Homo sapiens: one gene and its partners. The protein of the gene in region 4 interacts with the protein of the main gene of each other region in a biochemical or structural test. Each region holds a gene or a part of one and is shown on either strand. Other genes may lie near its edges. The genes, in order: PTPRB, PTPRC, PTPN12 and PDPK1.

Region 1 (5,672 bases), on a different chromosome or scaffold from region 4:
AAAACAGAGAAGAATCAAATAGATGCAATAAAAAATGATAAAGGGATATCACCACCGATCCCACAGAAATACAAACTACCATCAGAGAATATTATAAACACCTCTATGCAAATAAAACAGAAAATCTAGAAGAAATGGATACATTCCTGGACTCATAATGTGTCCAAGACTAAACCAGGAAGAAGTGGAATCTCTGAATAGACCAATAACAGGTTCTGAAATTGAGGCAATAATTAATAGCCTACCAACCAAAAAAAGTCCAGGACCAGATGGATTCACAGCCGAATTCTACCAGAGGTACAAAGAGGAGCTTGTACCATTCCTTCTGAAACTTTTCCAATCAACAGAAAAAGAGGGAATCCTCATCCTGATACCAAAGCCTGGCAGAGACACAACAAAAAAAGAGAATTTTAGACCAATATCCCTGATGAACATCAATGCAAAAATCCTCAATAAAATACTGGCAAACCGAATCCAGCAGCATATCAAAAAGCTTATCCACCACAACCAAGTCAGCTTCATCCCTGGGATGCAAGGCTGGTTCAACATATGCAAATCAATAAATGTAATCCATCACATAAACAGAACCAACAACAAAAACCACATGATTATCTCAATAGATGCAGAAAAAGCCTTTGACAAAATCCAACAGCCCTTCACGCTAAAAACTCTCAATAAACTAGGTATTGATGGAACAGATCTCAAAATAATAAGAGCTATTTATGATAAACCCACAGCCAATATCATACTGAATGGGCAAAAACTGGAAGCATTCCCTTTGAAAACCGGCATAAGACAAGGATGCCCTCTCTCACCACTCCTATTCGACATAGTGTTGGGAGTTCTGGCCAGGGCAATCAGGCAAGAGAAAGAAATAAAGGGTATTCGATTAGGAAAAGAGGAAATCAAATTGTCCCTGTTTGCAGATGACATGATTGTATATTTAGAAAATCCCATAGTCTCAGCTTTGGGCTGAAATTTTGGATCTCCTTAAGCTGTTAAGCAATTTCAGCAAAGTCTCAGGATACAAAATCAATGTGCAAAAATCACAAGCATTACTACACACCAATAACAGACAGAGAGCCAAGTCATGAATGAACTCCCATTCACAATTGCTACAAAGAGAATAAAATACCTAGGAATCCAACTTACAAGGGATGTGAAGGACCTCTTCAAGGAGAACTACAAACCACTGCTCAACGAAATAAAAGAGGACACAAACACATGGAAGAACATTCCATGCTCATGGATAGGAAGAATCAATATCGTGAAAATGGCCATACTGCCCAAGGTAATTTATAGATTCAATGCCATTCCCATCAAGCTACCAATGACTTTCTTCACAGAATTGGAAAAAACTACTTTAAAGTTCATATGGAACCAAAAAAGAGCCCACATAGCCAAGACAATCCTAAGCAAAAAGAACAAAGCTGGAGGCATCACACTACCTGACTTCAAACCATACTACAAGGCTACAGTAACCAAAACAGCATGGTACTGGTACCAAAACAGAGATATAGACCAATGGAACCGAACAGAGCCCTCAGAAATAATACCGCACATCTACAACCATCTGATCTTTGACAAACCTGACAAAAACAAGCAATGGGGAAAGGATTCCCTATTTAATAAATGGAGCTGGGAAAACTGGCTAGCCATATGTAGAAAGCTGAAACTGGATCCCTTCCTTACACCTTATACAAAAATCAATTCAAGATGGATTAAAGACTTAAATGTTAGACCTAAAACCATAAAAACCCTAGAAGAAAACCTAGGCAATACCATTCAGGACATAGGCATGGGCAAACACCTCATGACTAAAACACCAAAAGCAATGGCAACAAAAGCCAAAATAGACAAATGGGATCTAATTAAACTAAAGAGCTTCTGCACAGCAGAAGAAACTACCATCAGAGTGAACAGGCAACCTACAGAATGGGAGAAAATTTTTGCAATCTACCCATATGACAAAGGGCTAATATCCAGAATCTACAAAGAACTTAAACAAATTTACAAGAAAAAAACAAACAACCCCATCAAAAAGTGGGCAAAGGATATGAACAGACACTTCTAAAAAGAAGACATTTATGCAGCCAACAGACACATGAAAAAATGCTTATCATCACTGGTCATCAGAGAAATGCAAATCAAAACCACAATGAGATACCATCTCTTGCCAGTTAGAATGGCAATCATTAAAAAGTCAGGAAACAACAGATGCTGGAGAGGATGTGGAGAAATTGGAACACTTACACTGTTGGTAGGAGTGTAAACTAGTTCAACCACTGTGGAAGACAGTGTGGTGATTCTTCAAGGATCTAGAACTAGAAATACCATTTGACCCAGTGATTGCATTACTGGGTATATACTCAAAGGATTATAAATCAAGCTACTATAAAGACACATGCACGTGTATATTTATTGTGGCACTATTCACAATAGCAAAGACTTGGAACCAACCCAAATGTCCATCAATGGTAGACTAGATTAAGAAAATGTGGCACATATACACCATGGAATACTATTGCAGCCATAAAAAATGATGAGTTCATGTCATTTGCAGGGACATGGATGAAGCTGGAAACCATCATTCTCAGCAAACTATCACAAGGACAGAAAACCAAACACCGCGTGTACCACTCATAGGTGGAAATTGAACAACGAGAACACTTGGACACAGGGCAGGAGACATCACACACTGGGTCCTGTCGGGGGGTGGGGGACTGGGGGAAGGATAGCACTGGGAGAAATGCCTAGTGTAAATGACGAGTTGATGAGTGCAGCAAACCAACATGGCACACGTATACCTATGTAACAAACCTGCACATTGTGCACATGCACCCTAGAACTTAAAGTATAATTAAAAAAAAAAAAGGAATGAGTGCTTAATGTGACATACTGGCAAGGACATATATTGGAAAGGAAAGTACTTTCTTCTCTCTACATTCTATTGTAATTACCTATTTATTTACTTATCTGATTTCCCCATTACTTTAAGGAATAAGATGTATTTAATGATTTGCAACCTTGGCTGCACATCAGAATCACCTAGGAAGTACTTTAAAAATACAATACCTCATTTAGTCAGCTTAGAGGATAAAGCTCAGGTTTTATACTCTAGTATTAGTTAAAAGCTGCCATGTGAGTCTAATATGCAGCTTGGGTCAAAAATCACTTGTGGAGGGCACCTTAGTACTAGCACAGGGTACCTGAGTGCTAGCACAAGCTCTGGCACATAGTAGGTGTTAAATAAATATTACCTGGAAACTTGAATACAATCATTAATGTGTCTTTTATGAAACAAATATGAAACATGTGGCTTAGATTTTTACCTTCATAGGTCTGCTTTCTTTCATGGAAGAACACACAAAAAAATTCACATCCCATAGATGAACAACACATGTATTTGTGCTGCTGTAGATTATAATACTTAGTTACCAACTTAAACAATGATTTGAAATCACTCATTGCAAACATATGAATGCATTTCGGTTAATTTTTCACAGTAGCTACTCTAGCAAGTCAGTGAGCTCTCATGATATAGGTCTACAAGTATTATTCTTAAACTTTTATCAGGGCTGGGCATGGTGATTCATGCCTGTAATCCCAGTACTTTGGGAGGCTGAGGTGGGAGGATCACTTGAGCCCAGGAGTTGGAGGCTACATTGAGCTATGATCACACCATGGCTCTCCTGCCTGGGCAACAGAGCAAGACTTTGTTTCTAAAAACAAAAACCAAAGAAAAAACAAAAACAAAAAGAAAAAACCCCACAATGGCATATTTAAGATGGAGCAGAAAAATATATCTGTTAGCTTATAATTGTGTTAAAGCAAAAGTATGTGTTATACTTATGTGTACTCAAATATAAGGGTGTTTTTGTACCACAATTGTGCAAATTTTAACTTCTGCTTTTTCTAGAAATTAATTTCTTTCCCCAACACATATTATCAGGCATTTTTTGAATATAGCATTGTTCAGTGGTTAATTGCAAATGGCTTATTCTAGTTACCTTATTTTCGAAGTCTATTACTAGACATATTTGTATGAGGGTCATAGGAGGTAGTTTTTCTATGAATTATCTTTTATCTTGAATAACTCACCACTGAGTCCATATCTACTTTTTTTTAAAGTTCCAACTAAGTAATCTTATGTTAAATAAGGTTTGATTGGGGTTTGGGGATGAATCTCACTTCTTGTGTAAAACAGTAAAAATGGAACAGTTATAATGTTTCTATATTATTTAGGAGAGGCCTTGATAGATGAACCACAGGAAAGGTATTGTACAAATTGGTGCTATATGCTGAATATTTTCTGATAAAGTTGAATTTTTGAGTAGGTTTTTTTCTCATAGGCAGAAATGATATAAGAACAGAAACTATAACTCTCAACTTTTATTGTAGCAAAGCATACCACTTATTGTAGAAAAGCATAACACATTCAAATGGCATCTAGTTAAATGCTTGTTTTAACTTACAGAATGAATGAGTGAGAAAAAATTGTCCAAAGATTACCATGGTGGAAAGACTAATATAAGCCTCACAAATCAACACCTAAGGAAAAGACTTAACAATACAGTGGATGCTGATCTCCATATTGGATTATGGATCAAAATTTTCTGGTGATTAATAAATATCAAGTATTATGCACAAATCCAGATTTCCTGAAACAGAATCTTGGAGGTGGTTGTAGAGGAAAAAATGGTGGGAAAGAATCCTGGGAATGTGTATTTTTTTTTAAATTTTTATTTTTAGTTTTGGGGTACATGTGCAGGGTGTGCAGATTTGTTACATAGGTAAACGTGTGCCGTGGTGCTTTGTTGCACCTATCAACCCATCACCTAGGAATTAAGCCCAGGATGCATTAGCTACGGGAATGTGTATTTTTAGTAAGCCCTCCCTTTTCTACCCCAGGTGATTCTTAGGCAAGCCATGGGGCAAGTCTGTGGTCAAGCATTTGGGAACCTCTGGTATAGTAAAATGTACACTGAACAAAGAGTCAAAAAACTTAGGCTCTAATCATAGATCTGCTGCTAATTTATCTGGGACAATTTACTTAACCCTGAAAAATTTGTCTTCTTAGTGAGGCGCTTCGTTTCTTGATAACTTTTCCCATGCTTTGTAAGGTTCATTGGTGCCTAATATATTGTGATTCATCAGTTTTATCTTTCATGACTTTCTAAAGCAAACCTCTAATAGAAGAGTAAATACACAATTGCATGATTAACTTCAAGAGAAGATTAAACTGCCTATATATTCCACAAGCAAAAATTCCTAGCTCAGGACTGAACTGTGTCCTGCACCAGGAGCTTGCACATGTGTATAACATATTTTCTACATGTGTCCATTATCTGGGTTATATCCATTAATGGTCAATAAATTAGAAAAATCTGTGGCTGCCCATTGATTCTTAACATTTCAAAAGTGTGTTACCTCCAAAAGATATCTACCCCTAAACAGCAATACAAGAGATTTGCAAAAACACAACTATCTTCCAGTCTTATCAAGCACCATTCTGATGTTCTAATAATTTATTATAATTAGCAAATAGAAGTGTCTGTCAATAAAATCTAATAATTTTCCGATTACTGACTTTAGTCATTACATATATAGGCTGTGTATATGCCTACATCCATATTCCTACATCTAACAGTGCTTAACTGGCAGAGAAGAGA
Region 2 (5,672 bases), on a different chromosome or scaffold from region 4:
TTATATTCCTTTAAAACAAAAAACATAAAAAGCAACTTTCCATGTACAGGGGAAGGGGACCAGGTGAGGGTGAGAAAGAGTGAGATTTAGGGGAGAGAGAGGGGCATAAAAAAGCATAAATCTTTTGCATACTTATAAGGTTATTCACTGAATAGGCTTGAACATATGTCAGATAATGTGGTTGGTGCTAAAGCTGAGTGAGATCTACCACCAGGGAAATTTTAATAATAACTGAAGACATTAAGAAAAGGATAAAATATCTGTCACAAGCATTAAGTAAAAAAATCAAATTATAGCTTAGATTCACCTTCAACTATAGACTTTTATGGCAATAAATATTATATGGGAATAAAGAAAGGATGATATAGATACATTTTTCAGGAGTTTGGTCTTGTTAAAAGAATAGGGTCAAAACTGGAAGACAGCACACATTTAGTTACATGGAATATCAATAAGTTTAGACTCAGTGATGACAATGCAAATGGCGTGTTTAGGCTTGGGCATGAAACCTGCTTGTCCAGAGTGGAGAGGATGGAAAACATAAAAATGGGAGGAAGATGAAAGACACATGAGGGGGTGATTGTCCAGGGTGCTGGATATCACAAAAAGATCTTGGCTTTTATCTTGAGAAAATGAGGAAAACAGCGTGAAAATGTAGCTGTTATTTGCTGTGACGCTGACATTGCTGCATCCTGGCTAATCTGTGAGCAGCATGCAAGACTGGAGGGGACAAACAGGAGAGACTGTCAGAATCCAGACACAGCTGATGGAGGCCAACACCAGGGTGAAAGGGGTAAGACTGAGCAGACAGAATTATGTGATGGAGGGATAAAAAAAGACGTGGGTATGGCGATGAAGCAAGCAATCCAAGACTAGAGAATGACGTTTTATGACAGAAAGGCTTAAAAGAAAATCCTCAAAAGTACAAACCTGGTCTCCATGTTTCAGTTCTGTCAGCATAACAATAACTTTGACTTTTCTTTGGAAGATCATCTGCCAAAAGTCACCAATGGTCTCCTTCAGTGGTCCCTGAGCAGCAATCATCACTTCAGGTTTCCAGTAGCTCTTTTTAGACAAAAAAAGGGTGGGACTTCGTTACTACAGAAGAGAGCTCAGTAGATTCTTAAAGTAACCATTTGGAAATATAGTCAGTTTGATATCAATGCTGTTACATACAAATAGTAATATTCTTATGTTTCTTACAAGAAACAATGTAATAGCTATATGTAAAATAATTATACAGATAATAGTAATTCTTAGCTAATAATGTGAAATCAAGATTACAACATATCTTGCGAAACAAATTTTCCTTTCCACAAAAGACACACATTTTTGTTTCTCTATAAAGGTTAATGTGATTGTAAAAAGGAATTACTTAAGCATTTCAAATTACCTTCATCGTGTCTATACTAATTTTAATTAGTGTCTTTACATTCTTATTATATTTCCTAATTAAACTAATATTCTATGAATGTGTGCTTTAGGAAACTTTGGAAAATAAGTAAATCCAACAGTGTATAAATAATAAATATTTAATAAATGACTAAAGTTTCATTGTTTGAATTCTCAGTTAATTAAAAAAGTGGGGGGATATGACACAGACTCACCTAATAATTCAGTTTATCTGAATGAAAAGTTTCTAACCATACAAATATACAAATTTGTCATTGCCTACAATTTGGGTATCTGAGTATGTATAAACATTTTCAAATACTTGTATTTGCTCAAATTTTACTATTTTTAAAATTGATGTGATTATAGCTATATTTGTCATAAAATATAACCAATAGCATTATCTTATTTTGTCTCAGGTTATTAGGTTATAGTATTTTTAAATCTTTCATTAAGTTAAATTGTAGCATTGAAATTGAAACTCTCATGTCAATCTATATGTAGTTATGACCAAGCTCATTATTCTTTTATAAAATCGCTTAATGAATGGCCCTAATAACATAGATATTATTTTAAAATGTTTGGATCTTGGGTTTTGGCAATTTAAGTACCTACCATTATAAAAGATGCATTGATGTATTTGCTTGGTTCCTCTGAATCACTGTCATCATCAGAGGATTCATCTGAATCATGCTCACTCTCTTTACTCATTTCCAGCTCATGTTTAAGTGGCACTCTGTTATAGTCATCTATGTGAAATAAATCAGTAGTAAGTCTTCCTTGAAAAAATTAAATTTCTTCTTCATTGTCATGTGGAAATTTGAAAGTATTTAAAAAGGGACAGATTGTATTATGAAAACTTACTGATCTACATGAAATAAGATCCTATATAAAATTCAGTACTTGTCGATAAACAAATTATACAACAAAAGTCTAAGAAAAAGGATTCCAGGAAAAAACATGGAACATAATTCCATGTCAAACAACAAAGAGATATCATATCATTATATATGATTATTTAATCTTTGATACATATACTTTAATTTCCCATGGACTATTATAATTCTGCTTGATATAAGTTTACAAAATACATAGCGTAGATTTTTTCCCTCAATTATACTCCAGTAATATTAAATTAACAATCTTATATGGGTAGCTTTGATTAATTATTTAGCCCAGAAAATTATTTGACCTATAATTTCTCACTGTTTCTTAATTTCTATAATTTATAATAACTTGGTCAAATGATTTGATTAACCATATCACCATCAATTCCATATTTTAAACTACATTCATAAGGACTCCTATGAAAATTAACTAGGTCAACCATGCACTGATCTGATTTATTTGGTCATCTAATTTATCAACTTGTGTTATATTTTATCCATGCTAATTTTAGTTTATGCAGCTGAATAAAATTACCATATGTGATCATTTTAATATGCTTAAATAGTAGAATTCAAGTATTGAAACTGTGCATATTTTGATCTGTTAAATTTGAAGATTTAGAATTTATAGAGTATTTTCCCCTTACTTTCAACCTCCCAGTTATAAGGGATAAAAAGGAAACATATAGAGAACAAATGGATGTAATTTTTACTATTTGTCAATTACCCTGGAGTAAATAACTGAAATAAACTAAAAATGAAAGAAAATGGGTAAAAGAGACTTGCTCTTTTTTCTCCCAGCTTTATATATTTCTCTTTTATGACAACCCATTTCTGAAATAATTGGTAAAAAGAAAACACTGAATACAGTCTACCCTCCAAAGCCCATTGTAAATGTTCAGGATTATAAGTTCTTGCAATAACTAGTATTTTAATACCTAGTAACTTCTTCCCTATTAACAACCAAATGTTGAAAACTTGCTTCAAGATAATTTATATGACTGTGTGTCCCACATTAAACAAATCCAAAAGAGCTTAACTTTATCTGATACAAAAAATAAAAAAATAAACTACATACATGGGATGACATTAGAATTCCTGTTTTTACTTTTATTTTCTTCTTGATTTCCAATGTGCTGTGTCCTCCAGCTCCTATATGAAGGAAGTCTCTGAAAAAAAAAAAAAAAACAGAAAAACTCCTTTAAAATGTAAATATTGGCTTATTGCATCATAAGATGCTCCCTAAGGAAAAGCATTTCATTAATTTTTGTGAAATTTGCATATGCTCCCTATAGGCCATAATTTTTCGGTTTGCCTCTGATTTTTTTTCTTTAAATTGCTCAGGCATTTAGTCCTTTTGACAGGGCTAGTATGCACTAAAGATATATATGTAACAGACTATGTCTCCTTCTTCAGAGCTGCTTGATAGAAAAATAATATAGTTTGTTCTTATATAAATTGAAACCACTAGACCGATGTTGATCTATATTGCAAAAGCAATGGTAAGTTATTTTAAATGATCAGAAATAAACTTTGGAGACAACACATTCTTAGGAGACTTGGCACATGTTTTGAAAGTTCATTCTTAATTTGTTTACACCTTCCAGATTGCTTTCCTCTCACCCACAGTTCCTAATTAGTCAGAAAAGATCCATCATTTCTATACACAAATCCTTTTAGTTTTCTTTCTTCCTACTTAATCCAGTCTGCCTTCATTTCTCGCTTGTAAAACATCAACAATTTCCTAACTGGCCTCTTTGTCTTCAATCTCGCCTGCTCTAATCCTTCTAAAACACAAAACAGAAGATGCTCTTCTGAAGATGAACAGCTTTCCATCACTATAAGAGGACAACAAACCTCCTCAAAATAGCATAAAAAGTCTTTATTGATACGCCCCTGACTGTTTCTCCAGCCTTACACCTTACTGGGTCCCTCAATACTTCTACCAAACCAGCTTCCTCAATTCTTGGAAGGGCCAAGCTGTTCTTCAACTCTTGGCACATAAACACTTTTTTTTTTTTTTCTTGCTTGAACTACCCTTTCCCCTTTTGGTTGCTCTAATAACTTTTCTTACCCTCTAGGTATCAGTTTAAATACCAATTTCTTCTGGAAGACACCCCTGCCTACAGTCTTTCCACTAGTCCTTAAATAAGTATTTGTCAAGTGAATAATATTTAATGATAATAGATAATGTTACAAATAACTGAAACTGAGAAGGCTCCTCATGTACAATTCGGTAAGATTTTATATACACACACACGCATGTAGATACGTGTGTGTATATAGACATATATTTTTTCAGCATAGTACCCTCATTCAAACTAATTATGGCACCCTGTTTCAAACCTCATTCTTTGCTACGTAATTGAGTGAAAGAAAATATCATCACTGAATTTTAGGCCACTTGAACACCACCATGAGCTGCATGAAGGACCAGATGTTTTGGAAACTGTTACAACACCTTGTGCTCTTGTGAGTGTAGTCACCGAGGCAGCCTATGCCCTGTAGCAATACTCAGGATTATAGGTGGAATTAATGGCTCACCTTCATCTAAGACACAAAGGATCTGTCACTCTTAAATCTCTACCTGTTTCACTTGCCATCACAAGTCTAAGCTTCCCAGTGCATCCACATTCCCCAGATTTTTATTCCTGAATGGTTATTTGTATCCTCAGATACAACCCAGTCTCTTACATCTAACCCATCAGTGCCTTCCTCCCTGCCCTCTGATGCCCATCGTCTGTCATCTGTGAACTCCCATTTATCTTAATCATCTTCTCCCAACAGTCACTTCACCCTTTTTTTTTTCTTTCCACCAATTAAAACCTGGATGTCAGCTAAGGACACCACCAATAACTCAGCAGCCCTTTTAAGAAAAAGTTGACTTTCCTCCTCACACCCCATTTACCTCACAGCTTCAAGAAAAGATACGTGTTCTCCTTGATCCCTGATTCTACTTGCAAACCATTTCTACTCATTTGCTTTCAAATCAACCAAGCACTTTGATATTCCTGCCATCATACTATACTAGCTTCTATCCACCGGCTTCACTGGGAAGTGTCAGGTATTGATTTCTGAATCACTCCACCTCATTTAGTTTTAGGCTTGGCTAAGTATATTCTCTTCTTTCCAAGGTCTGTCATCATTTTTGGTTAATTCAACATTGACAAGAATAATCTATCCAAGACTCTAGTCTCTTCATTTCTTAGCTTCTTCACCTCCCATGACTTTCCCTCCACTTCCCAGTCATCCACTTTCATCATTCCACCTTTGTAGGTTTCATTCCAAATATTACATCACCTCTAAAATCATAAGTTCAACTATCTGTGCTATTGAAAATTACCCCTATTATTCCTAGTCATTTATTCTGATATGTTCAACCTAGCAATCTGT
Region 3 (5,672 bases), on a different chromosome or scaffold from region 4:
AGGGAAAAATCAGGGAATCAAATCTCTCTGGAAAGAGAGACAGACATAATTACAGTTTGAAAAAGGAGCAGCACTTGGATCATATGTTTTGAATTGACTTTCAAAATACACATTTAAAATTTCCAATAATTGTAATGGTCATCAAAGGGAGCAATGAGTTTTTTTAACTTATATTTTTAATAATAAAAATTAAACCATGCTTCCAGTGCAGCCCACATCTCCTGATTGTACAACCAGTATGGTTTCCATTAGCCTACAGATGCTGCCACTTGAAAGTGAGTATGATGTGTTGAATGGACTGGATGAGGAAAGAAACTAGAGGCAAGTAGAGAACAACAGATATCACTTGTAATCACTCTCTAAATACCCACAAATTCACTATTTTTGAAGAGATACCGATGACATGATATCTTGATTTTATTAAGTCCAAAGCCAAAAGTTTAAAAGACATTTTATTAATACTCTAAGACAATGTCAACAAAGTATGATCCATTGGGTGTGGGATGCACAAATACAGAAGTTACCTTAAGAAACTGCAGCTAATAAAATCATATTTATTTAAAATATTTGAATTCAATGTAGCTCTTATCTTGTATTTTCTTTTTCAGTGGATACTGAAAATACAACGAGTTATGTGAGCACATCTGTGTAGGAGGGGAAGAAGCAGTTCTCATGATCGTCTAGAAGACAAACCCTTGGACCACTGAAGAATTCACCTGAAGAATAAATCTGTCTTACAGCATTAAGTTTGTCTACAATGTCTGCACATGCAATGGACATTAGTGCCTATTAAATGCCAAGCACTATATTAAGCAATGGGGATACAGGGATAATTAAGTCCCAGTCTCTAGCCTGGGAGGCGTTCAGTCTGGGGAAGACAGAAATGTAAATATTTATGAATCTAATGAACTCAGTGCTACAGAAACACAGAAGTATTTAACATATGAACAAAAAACCTACAGCCACCTAAATGTTAATGTCTTACTTTCAGTTTCATCCTTTAAAAATCCTTTTTCCAAGTTAAATATCAAATATTGATGGAAAAAAGTTAATATATTTTGAAAGTAAATAAAGTAAAACATTCTTGAGAATGCTTAAAGTAAATTTTTAGTTTACTGTCTCAGTGAACCATGTCTGGAGAGTTACTTAAAAGTTCACTTCCACTTCTGAAGTTAGTTGATGTAAATATGTTTAGGTGAATACTCATCAAAGGATGGATAAGAAAACCATAACTAAACCAGTGGCACTGGGTAAGCACTAAGATTAGCTCAAATGCAAGGACTGGAAAATATTTCCTATCACTCTAGCTTTGAAAGACAAATTAAGACACACAAAATCTTACAAGCTAACCACAAGAAGATACCACTTCACACCCAGTAGGATGCCTATAATCAAAAAGACAGCAACAAGTATCGGTGAAGATGTAGAGGAACTGGAACCCTCATATATTCCTGATTGGAATGTAATATGTGCAGCAGCTTTGGATAACAGTCTGGCAGTTCCGCAAAATGTTAAACATAGTGTTACCACGTGACTGAGCAATTCCACACTTAGATATATACCCAAGAGACCTGAAAATGTGTCCACACAGAAACTTGTACACAAATGTTCATAGCTGCATTATTCACATTAGCCAAAAAGTGGAAACAATTCAAATACCCATCAACACGATGAATGGATAAACAAAATGTGGTATCTATACAATAGAATATTATTCAGCCATAAAAAGGCCAAAAGTACTACGGATCAATACTATAACATGGATGAAACTTGAAATCATCATGTTAGGTGGAGTCAGTCACAAAACACCACATATTGTATGATTCCATTTATATAAAATGTCCAGAATACTTAAATCTATGGAAACAGAAGGTAGATTTGTGGTTGCCTGGGGCTTATGGGAAGGCGGGGAGTGACTGCTAATGGGTACAGAAAGTGAAGAAAATGTCCTAAAATTGATTATGGTTATTGTTGCATAACTTCATCAATGTAATAAAAAACTAGTGAATCATAGACTTTAAATGAATAAATCTTATGGTAGGTACTTATATCTCAATAAAGCTATTATTAGTTTTTTTAAACCTATAAGCTACAACACTGAATAAACAAATGATTAAAATTTTTATATTTATCAAGACTGCAACATAAGATCTTCCCAGGCTAAAGAGGATATACACATAGACAAGAAATAATAAGAAAAATATTCTCTAGTTCTCTCTTTAAAAAAAAAAAAAAAAGGCAGTGGAAGGGGCACACTCTCCTTCAACCAATCTTCCTCTAGCTCCTACCATCTACTTTCAAAATGTTAAAAAAAATGGAAAGACACTAAACCCACCCTTCACCCTATAATCTAGCTTCTTCCCATACCCCAACCCAAACTGTTTTTTCTAGTCACCAAAGCACTCCTATGTGCCAAATGGAATAGGTACTTTCTCAACCTCACCTTACCGGTCCTCCCAGCATTATTTGACTCTGGTAATAACTCCTTTCTTGAAACTCTCCCTGGCTTTTCTGACATCTCTGGTTCTCCTCCCTCCTCCTTGACCACACCTTCTCAGGAACAATCACTAGTATATCCTTCTTTTGGCTGTTATTTTAAGACTGATGTTCTTCAACCTAAAGCTGGTCACTCTATAAGTTTGTTGGAATAAGCTCATTCACTCCCATGCTGTCGACTATCTCCTACATGCTTATATTATGATGCCTACATCTTTAACTCCGTCCTGTCAGAAATCTTGAGCTCTACATTTCTACTGGATGTCTCAGAGGCACCGCAGTTTTAACATGTTGAAAATTAAATTTATCCTCTTCTCCCCCTGAAACTTCCTCCTACAATGTTGTTTGGTCTCCTCTACTTGTTTCTCCTCCCTCACTCCTTACTCTACCAAATGGTATTCTCTAGCTTGGGTGACAGATACCAAGCTAGATATTTTGCGAGTCATAACACTATACTCTTTTCTTCTTTACTACCTACATCTAATGAATCATTGAGACTCCTTTCTTAATTCTTATCAGATGTGTTGTATACACTCTATTTCCCCATCTCAGTTCACTTCAGGCCCTCACATCTCACTTCTTATATTTCAACAGCTTCCAAAATGCCACCCTTCATACTGCTATCAGATTCAACTTTGTAAAACACAAATGACTGTTTACCTTTCTTAAAAGACTCAGTAGTGCTCCAGAAACCCAGACTAATGATTCTCACCTTTTCTACCAGAACCTATCTAAGTAAGTGAAGGTTCAGAGTACAACTCAAGGAGCAGGCTGGAGAAGGTGAGATGGGGGAATGACGCTGGAGTGGACCAGCATGTCTATTTTCTTAACACCTCCCTACTTTCTCCATGTCTCTAGGAGTTACAATGCAGACTGTCCAGAATTGCTATTATCGGTCTGTAGAATAAAATCTAAGTATAGCATAGATGTAAGATCCTTCACAAAAAGACCTCTACCTAACTTTCCCAGCATTACCTTTATCATTTACCATGTATTAGCTCACTGGTTCTCAAAGTATGGTCCAGGACCACCTCCCCAACCCCCAGCCATCAGAGGGAGTCTGTGTGGAGTTAAAACCTAGGTCTGTCAAACATGAATGTGCACCACCCTACTTTATACATTTATCTCTCATTTTGTAAATATTAAAAGTAGAGATAATTGAGATCAAATTCTGGATCAGCCACAAATTAGCTATTTGCTAATTTATTAGCAAAATTAGCATGTTTTCAACATGCAAATAACCATCTAGGCAACATAGTTCTGCACAGTCTGGGTACCTTAGCTGTCTCCTCTTTAACAGTATGGGGCACAACCAAGGCCAGGAATAGACACTCATAGAATAGTAATGACAGGTGGAAAATTTCTATCCTCAATAGTAATCAAGAAATTCAAGTTAAAACAAGATATCAGTTTTCAACCATCAAATAAAGATCAAGAAAATTATAATATGAACACTCATACATTATGACAGTTGTATAAACTGACAAAACTTTTTCAAGTTTATGAACATGTATTAAATGTTTATATACGTCTACCTAGTACTCCTGGGAAGCTATCTTATGCAACAGTGAAAAATGTCAGTTTCAGCAAAAATGTTAATCACAGAATTACTATATGTAACAGCAGAAAGTAGAATGACCTAAATACTCAAACATAAAGAAACAAAATTAAGATATAAGATAGTTACCAAGTAGTAGGCCGGCTACGGTGGCTCACACCTGTAACCCCAGCACTTTGAGGCTGAGGCAGGTGGATTGCTTGAGCCCAGGAGTTTGAGACCAGCCTGGGCAACATGGGGAAACCCTGTCTCTACAAAAAATACAAAAATCAGCAGGGCTTGGTGGGGTGGGCCCATAGCCCCAGCTACTCTGGAGGCTGAAGTGGGAGGATCACCTGAGCCCAGGGAGACCGACGCTGCCGTGAGCCAGGATCGCAACCATGCACTCCAGCCTGGGTGACAGAGTGAGACCCTGTCTCAAAAACAGAACAAAACAACAAAACAAAACAAAACCAAAAAATATTAACAGAGGTAGCCTTTAAATGACAGGACTGTAGGACAGCTGGATAGAGCGAAAAGAGCATCATCACCAGTCAGGCAAGTGGAGTGTTCATTTGAACTGTGGTCTAAGTGTAAGGCATTATTATTATTCTATTAATTTCCAAATTTGGAATAAACATTATTTTATGATGGAACAGTTATATCAGCTACATTATCTCTAAGGCTCAGTCATAAAATGTTAAGAATTTAAAATGCATTTTTAATCGACATCAGAATTTAAAAATAATAGAATCTATAAGCTAATCTTTTTTTTCTCTTTCCATGCCAGGAGAACATAGTTCCTCTCCAGCCTTCCAGTCAGGGGAAAAAGCAGCACCAACTACCGGCTGTCTTAATTACAGCTATTGCTTATCAAGTCAGGAAATTAAAAAAAAAAAAAGCCCTATAAAAGAATAGCCTTAGTCATCAAATCTCTAATGTAGAATCACCTAGCTATACCTAGGTATCATGGAAGAAAAAGGAAACTCATTTACTCTTGGAGAAATGAACTCTCGGTGGCTCATGCCTGTAATCCTAGCACTTTGGGAGGCTGAGGCGGGCAGATCACAAAGTCAGTCAGATGAAAGTTCAAGACCAGTCTGGCCAATATGGTGAAATCCCATCTCTACTAAAAATACAAAAATTAGCCAGGCGTGGTGGCATGCGCCTGTAATCTCAGCTACTCAGGAGGCTGAGGCAGGAGAATCGCTTGAACCTGGGAGGTGGAGGATGCAGTGAGCCGAGATTGAGCCACTGCACTCCAACCTGGGCGACACAGCGAGGTGTTACATCTCAAAAAAAAAAGAAAGAAAGAAAGAAAGAAAGAAATGAACTCTCCAATAGGAATCCCTGACTCATCCCCAAAGCATGAACCCTAAGGCCACTTCTCCAGTACAGGAGTTCAGAGGCTGGGCAACCTGTCCTGATGGCCCGCATCACCAAACAATGCTCCTTCCTGACGGTATATGCCTAGGGATAACAAGGTGACTAGCATGCAAACAAGAAATGACCAGGGACCACACCATCTCTTCTTCCATAACCAAAGTAAGACGGTAAAAAACTAGTTTTAGGCCGGGCATGGTGGCTCACGCCTGTAATCCCAGCACTTTGGGAGGCCAAAGCAGATGGATCACTTGAG
Region 4 (5,672 bases):
GTTTTTGGTGCCAGCCGCAGTGGTGTGAGTGCGCTCGCTTTATTATAGTCTTGCCAGCACTGGGCGTCTCTGTGTATTGTAAACACATGCGATCATCACTCTTATCTCTCCATCCCCCCCACAATTAAAGATGTGCCGTGCTATCTCTGCTCAGGTTACCTTGGCCTTGGGATGAGTTGGCTGGAGGCTCAGGCAGCGCGAGGGACAGGAGGAGGGCGAGGCGCTGCCTGGTGGATTAGCGGGGAGCCATGGCACGGGCAGGACTCAGGAGAGGAGGCCGGCAGCTCACAGCAGACCGCGGGGCTCAGCTGGCCTGCCCTGTGCTTGGGGTTTGTTTTTGAGCGTTGAAATGAGGTCCTTAAACCTTAGTCCGTGCATTGAGAGCAAGGCAGCTGCCTTGAGCCTTACTTCCTTTTCCTCTTTGTCGCCTAGTATGACGCCGTGCCCATCCAGTCCAGCGTGGTGTTATGTTCCTGCCCATCCCCATCAATGGTGAGGACCCAGACTGAGTCCAGCACGCCCCCTGGCATTCCTGGTGGCAGCAGGCAGGGCCCCGCCATGGACGGCACTGCAGCCGAGCCTCGGCCCGGCGCCGGCTCCCTGCAGCATGCCCAGCCTCCGCCGCAGCCTCGGAAGAAGCGGCCTGAGGACTTCAAGTTTGGGAAAATCCTTGGGGAAGGCTCTTTTTCCACGGTGAGTATTTGCTGCTGCTGTGTGTCAAACGTACGTGATTTCCTTGGGGAGGCTCACCTTCCTCGGGGCTTGCCGGAGACTCCAAGCAAGGCTGGTGTCCTTCCAGGCAGGAGGTCTCAGGCCCCTTGAGGGGTGTCACCTGTTGTGAAGGCCACTTGAGTCTTTGGGGGCTGGGTACCCCCCAAGCAGATGACGTGATGAGTGTGGCTAAATATTTAACCTGGTTTTGTAGATGAGAACGTTAGACACATCTCTTGATGGTCTGCGGAGGTTTTTTCTGATGTAGTTAATTTCATTTTAACCTGGCATCAGCAAGTTACATTCTGTGTCCTTGTGTCTCACTGGCAGGGCCCTGGGAAGCTGTTCTTTTTCTTAGATTGAAAGTTAGTATCTCTCCAGGGTTTTTGGGGACATTTATTGACCTCTTCTTATTTCTCTGTTTTGTTTTTTTGAATACATAAAACAGTACGCTCTGGACATTTGCTGGAGACACAGCCTCCAGAGTCTTGTGTTCCGAGTTTCACAAACAGGAGTATTGTCGCAGTACTGTCAAGTCACACTTGTTACCTGTCTTCGGGGTGTTTTTTCCTCTGAAAGCAAAGAAATGAAGGTCGAAAGCAGCTGACATGGGACGTTTTGCTGACGTGGGACCCATGAAGCCGTGTGTGGTTGTGGATTTAGTGAAGGTTGTAACAGGTTCAGGGGAGGCCTGAGCAACTCGGGGTGTACTGTCTCCATCTGGGCCTCTAAAGAGACAGAGTCCCGTGCCGCCACTGTGGTCGCCAAGGTGGCCGCCGTGTGCGTGCTAGGGCCATTCCAGGGAGCCCTGGGGGCACCTCACTCTGGAGGGCCTGGGTGAGTTCCTGAATAATTCTTTCTTGCCTGACCTTTGTGAAGAAACCGTAGGTGAGGTTTATTTTCCTTTTTTCTCTTTTTTACACATAGGAAATATTTCACAATGCAAAGAAAAACATGAAATATAGCTTACCCATATTCCCAACATATTGTTTTAATTAATGTTAACTTTTGCTGCCCTTACACTTTAGATTTTTTAAATTGCAGGTTTTATGAAATAATTTTTTTATAAAAGGATTATGCCCTCATGAAAAATGCCTTCAACCATGAGACTAGTCCCCAAAGTTTTGGGGACTCAGATCCTTTCAGAAAGAAGAAACTCTTTGGAAAACCTTGGGCATTCTGCATGGCTGCTTACAACCACCCAGTGAAAGAACAGGCCTCCTCTTTTCTCAGCTTTACCTGTTTTTTGAGACAGAGTCTTGCTCTGTCACCCAGGCTTGAGTGCAGTGGCATGATCATAGCTCACTGCAGCCTCGACTTCCTGGGCTCAAGTGATCCTCTTACCTCAGCCTCCCAAGTAGCTGCAGTTACAGGAATGCACCACCGTGCCCAGCTAATTGTAAAATTTTTTGTAGAGACAGGGTCTCACTTTGTTGCCCAGACTGGTCTTGAACTCCTAGGCTCGAGTGATTCTCTCCTCAGCCTTGCAAAGTGTTGGGATTACAGGCGTGAGCCACTGTGCTTGGCCTCAGTTTTACTTCCTTGTATGTCTCTTTTTAATTTAACTTTATTTTATTATGTATGTATTTATCCTTTTAGAAACAGAGTCTTGCTCTGTCACCTAGGCTGGAGTGCAGCGGTGTGATCATAGCTCACTGCAGCCTTCACCACCTGGGCTTAAGCGATCCTCCTGCCTTAGCCTCCTGAGTAGCTGGGACCACAGGCATGTGCCACCATACATGGCCCTTAACATTTATCTTGACTGAAAAAGGAAGACTCATCTGTGAAATTGCCTGTTTCCCTGGGTTCTGGAGATGGGTGGAGAGCAGGCACTGTCCCTCCAGGGGCTGTGGTCCGTGTCTTTCTGAACCTGCACCAGGGAGGTGCCCGGGAGAGCACGGTGAGCCGGAGGCTCCTCCATGGGGCTGTTTGGAATCCACAGTACTGGGTCTCAGATTACATGTGTTACCCTCAGTTCTTTCTCAGCTTTCCTGAAATGGAGATCACATAAAAGTTGATTTCCAGGGGAGGGGGAAAGGACAGTGATAGGAGGCTGGGCAAGAGCCAGCTGCAGCACCGGAGAGCCGGGAGGCCCCCTGAGGACGGTCACAACCTCCAGGGAGGGACACGTCACGCGCCATTCTCTGGAAGAGGATCCTTCCTTCTTGTAGGAAACCTGCTTGTGAAGTGTTGAGTTTAGACAACGGAAAGATCACATCAGTATCCCCTTAGAAAGGGTTCCACTAAATATCGGTGCTCGTTCACAATTCTTTCTTCCTCTTTTCTACTTATGAAGCTAGCACGTGCTCTTGTGGAGAAACGTGACCTCACAGAAACACATGAGCTAGAGAGGGGAGCCCTGCCCGGCCCACTTCCCCTTTCTCCCTGGCAGCTGAGAGCCATCCATGCGTGGCGTATTCCTCTGGGAAGACCTTGAGTATGTAGAGTCCCCAGAATCCAACTTCATTCTTCTTGAGTGCCACAAGGCGTCTCACATGGTGCTTTCCAGGATCTCTTCTGACGTGTCCCATCAGGAGTCCTGCCCCGATTGCGGCTCACAGCCCGGGGCCAGGTGGACCTGGCCCTGTGGCCTCCTGAAGGTCTTCCTGCCAGCCCCCAGGAATGTCACGGGACAGGTTTCCTCTGCTCCCTGCTCCTCAGGCCGTCCCCCTGTGGGTGTCTTAGGAGACACTTGTGTCCCACTTGGTGGTGGTGGGGCCTCCCTGGCACAGCTGCCTCATGCTCTCTGGCTAAACCGTGGGCCCACCAGGAATCTCCAGTCTGGTGCCTCAGGGTGTGCCCCAGGCTAGTCCGAGTGGAGGGTCTCTCCCCTGTTTGGGATGCCTGCCCTGCTGGAGTGCTCTGTCTCGGAGGTGGGGTTTGAGTGCAGGGCTCAGGGGTGCTGAGAGGACAGGGCAGGAGGCCTGCTGCATCCCGGGCAGGTGGCTCCCTCTTGTGGGCACGCAGGGCCATGCATTGCTGGTTTAGCTCCCTCTGTCCTTTACAGCCAGGCTCTCTTCATGGTGCCCACAAGCAACATCATACAAAATGTATGATAACAGTTATTTCCAAAAACGAAACTTCAGGGCAGCCTTTGCAATGAATGTATACTAGAAGGACATATTGTTGTCACAGAAGCCCCTGTGCCCTGCCACTTGTGGTGGCGCCACTGTCTTCCTTCTGTTGGTGAAGGGCGTGGCAGTCGAAGAGGTTCCTGAGTTTGTACTTGTGTTGCACCGTTAGGGCTGTTAGCAGCTGATCCAGAAGCTTCTGGAAACAACAGAGAGATGGATATGTTTTCTCTTAGCTGTTAGAACACATCAACACGAGCATTGGCTTTTAGCTCTACTTGTCAGTACAAGACCCAAAATATTTCACTGTAGACTCAAGCCTTCAGTGGGGACAGGAAGCGTGCGTGTGGGGCAGAGGGACTCGTCAGGCCCAGTGTCCTGGTTATTACATTGTGTGTTTCTTTTTCTCCTTTTCTTTCCCAACCAGGTTGTCCTGGCTCGAGAACTGGCAACCTCCAGAGAATATGCGAGTGAGTATGGGCTGCAGGGAGCTGTGCGTCCGGGAGCAGGGCAAGCGGCTCCGTGCAGGGCGGCTGGGGTGGCAGGGCCGGTGTTTCTGTGCTGATTTCAGGGTACAGGACACTGTTGGCTTTAGAGACCACCAGGCTGTTGTGTACAATGTTTGAAAGACTTTAATTTGTACCAGTTACCTTTGTGAGTCATGTCTTTAGTGTTTTTTGTTGTTTCTGATAGTAACTCACTTCTCTCTCACCTGAAGTTAAAATTCTGGAGAAGCGACATATCATAAAAGAGAACAAGGTCCCCTATGTAACCAGAGAGCGGGATGTCATGTCGCGCCTGGATCACCCCTTCTTTGTTAAGCTTTACTTCACATTTCAGGACGACGAGAAGCTGTGTATCCTTTGCGTGGTTGGTGCCGTCTGAAGCCACACCAGTCACCCCTCTCACTTGGAATCAGACCCTGTGTGTTCCCACAAGCAGCCCCCGCTCCCTGCCGAGTGGGGTCCCTCAGGCCGCTGACATTCAGGGAGGCAGCCGAGGCAGCGCCAGGGTGTGGCTGGGAGTCTGCACAGGACGTTACCTCCCGGAGAAGCCACCGATGTGGCTCCAGCACAGTCCTCTCTGCTGCGGCTTGCTTGGTCGGCGTCCCTTGCTCCCCTAGAGCGCCATCTTTTCTGTTATTAAACCTTGGCTCAGGAATCTGGGAGGCAAGGCCCGGTGGAAGTTGGGGTGGGCCCCACCTCTGCCCCATCCAGCTGACCTGTGGGCCTGCCAGTGGCTGGGCTGGCCACGCCACACCGTCGTCACCCCCAGCAGGTGCAGTCTGCATCTGCTCTTCTCCTCCCCCGCCACCCTCCAAGCTGGCCCAAGTGTCGTGGCCTCCCCATCCTGCCTGGGGAGGGGCCTGAGTCCTCCCACCTGTCCTCCCCGTCTCTCCCCAGCACCCGGCTCTTCTGTGTTAGAGCTTCGTTCTGGCCTGCTCCCACTCTCAGCACCATCCTGCAGCTCCTTCGGCTGCCGGCGGAGTGTGTGTGCTCTCTCTGTTTGGAGGTGCTTGCCAAGTGCAGGTTGATGGGTGATGGGGATGCGCTGCTATGCCGGGTGGCGTCTCTGCCCACGAGAAGCTTCGATTTTGGTGGAGGAGCTGGACGTGCACTGACGATCCGTGTCAGAGGCTTCCCGGCAGCAAGATGCGCTGCCAAGAGTCTTAGGGCTGGGTAGGGGCTGGCGGCAGTGTGGGGCTCTTTCAGCTCCTGGGCAGGAGTGTGTGGGGGGGCATGAAAGGCTGTGGTGGGCTGGGCCCCTGAGCCGTGGCAGCCTGGCACTGACTCTGGACTTCCTTCTCTTTGTGGCGGGGAACGTGGGGTTTGCTGTGGCTTCTCCTAGGCCAGGCGGGAGAACGGGCAGGAGAGCAGGGGCAGGGGCCGT

The links.
Region 1: of the proteins of PDPK1 (region 4) and PTPRB, one has a biochemical effect on the other in vitro, tested with the Homo sapiens proteins (one large-scale study listed by IntAct).
Region 2: of the proteins of PDPK1 (region 4) and PTPRC, one has a biochemical effect on the other in vitro, tested with the Homo sapiens proteins (one large-scale study listed by IntAct).
Region 3: of the proteins of PDPK1 (region 4) and PTPN12, one has a biochemical effect on the other in vitro, tested with the Homo sapiens proteins (one large-scale study listed by IntAct).

Annotation. Positions count from the first base shown.
Region 1 is NC_000012.12:70,629,717-70,635,388, forward strand, and holds part of PTPRB (receptor-type tyrosine-protein phosphatase beta), read right to left. Parts: intron 1-5,672. UniProt on the Homo sapiens protein: Plays an important role in blood vessel remodeling and angiogenesis. Not necessary for the initial formation of blood vessels, but is essential for their maintenance and remodeling. Can induce dephosphorylation of TEK/TIE2, CDH5/VE-cadherin and KDR/VEGFR-2.
Region 2 is NC_000001.11:198,745,885-198,751,556, reverse strand, and holds part of PTPRC (receptor-type tyrosine-protein phosphatase C isoform 1 precursor), read right to left. Parts: intron 3,449-5,672; coding exon 3,358-3,448; intron 2,142-3,357; coding exon 2,008-2,141; intron 1,066-2,007; coding exon 931-1,065; intron 1-930. UniProt on the Homo sapiens protein: Protein tyrosine-protein phosphatase required for T-cell activation through the antigen receptor. Acts as a positive regulator of T-cell coactivation upon binding to DPP4.
Region 3 is NC_000007.14:77,539,910-77,545,581, reverse strand, and holds part of PTPN12 (tyrosine-protein phosphatase non-receptor type 12), read right to left. Parts: intron 1-5,672. UniProt on the Homo sapiens protein: Dephosphorylates a range of proteins, and thereby regulates cellular signaling cascades. Dephosphorylates cellular tyrosine kinases, such as ERBB2 and PTK2B/PYK2, and thereby regulates signaling via ERBB2 and PTK2B/PYK2.
Region 4 is NC_000016.10:2,557,271-2,562,942, forward strand, and holds part of PDPK1 (3-phosphoinositide-dependent protein kinase 1), read left to right. Parts: intron 1-432; coding exon 433-693; intron 694-709; exon of another isoform or gene 710-4,209; coding exon 4,210-4,252; intron 4,253-4,475; exon of another isoform or gene 4,476-4,500; coding exon 4,501-4,638; intron 4,639-5,672. UniProt on the Homo sapiens protein: Serine/threonine kinase which acts as a master kinase, phosphorylating and activating a subgroup of the AGC family of protein kinases.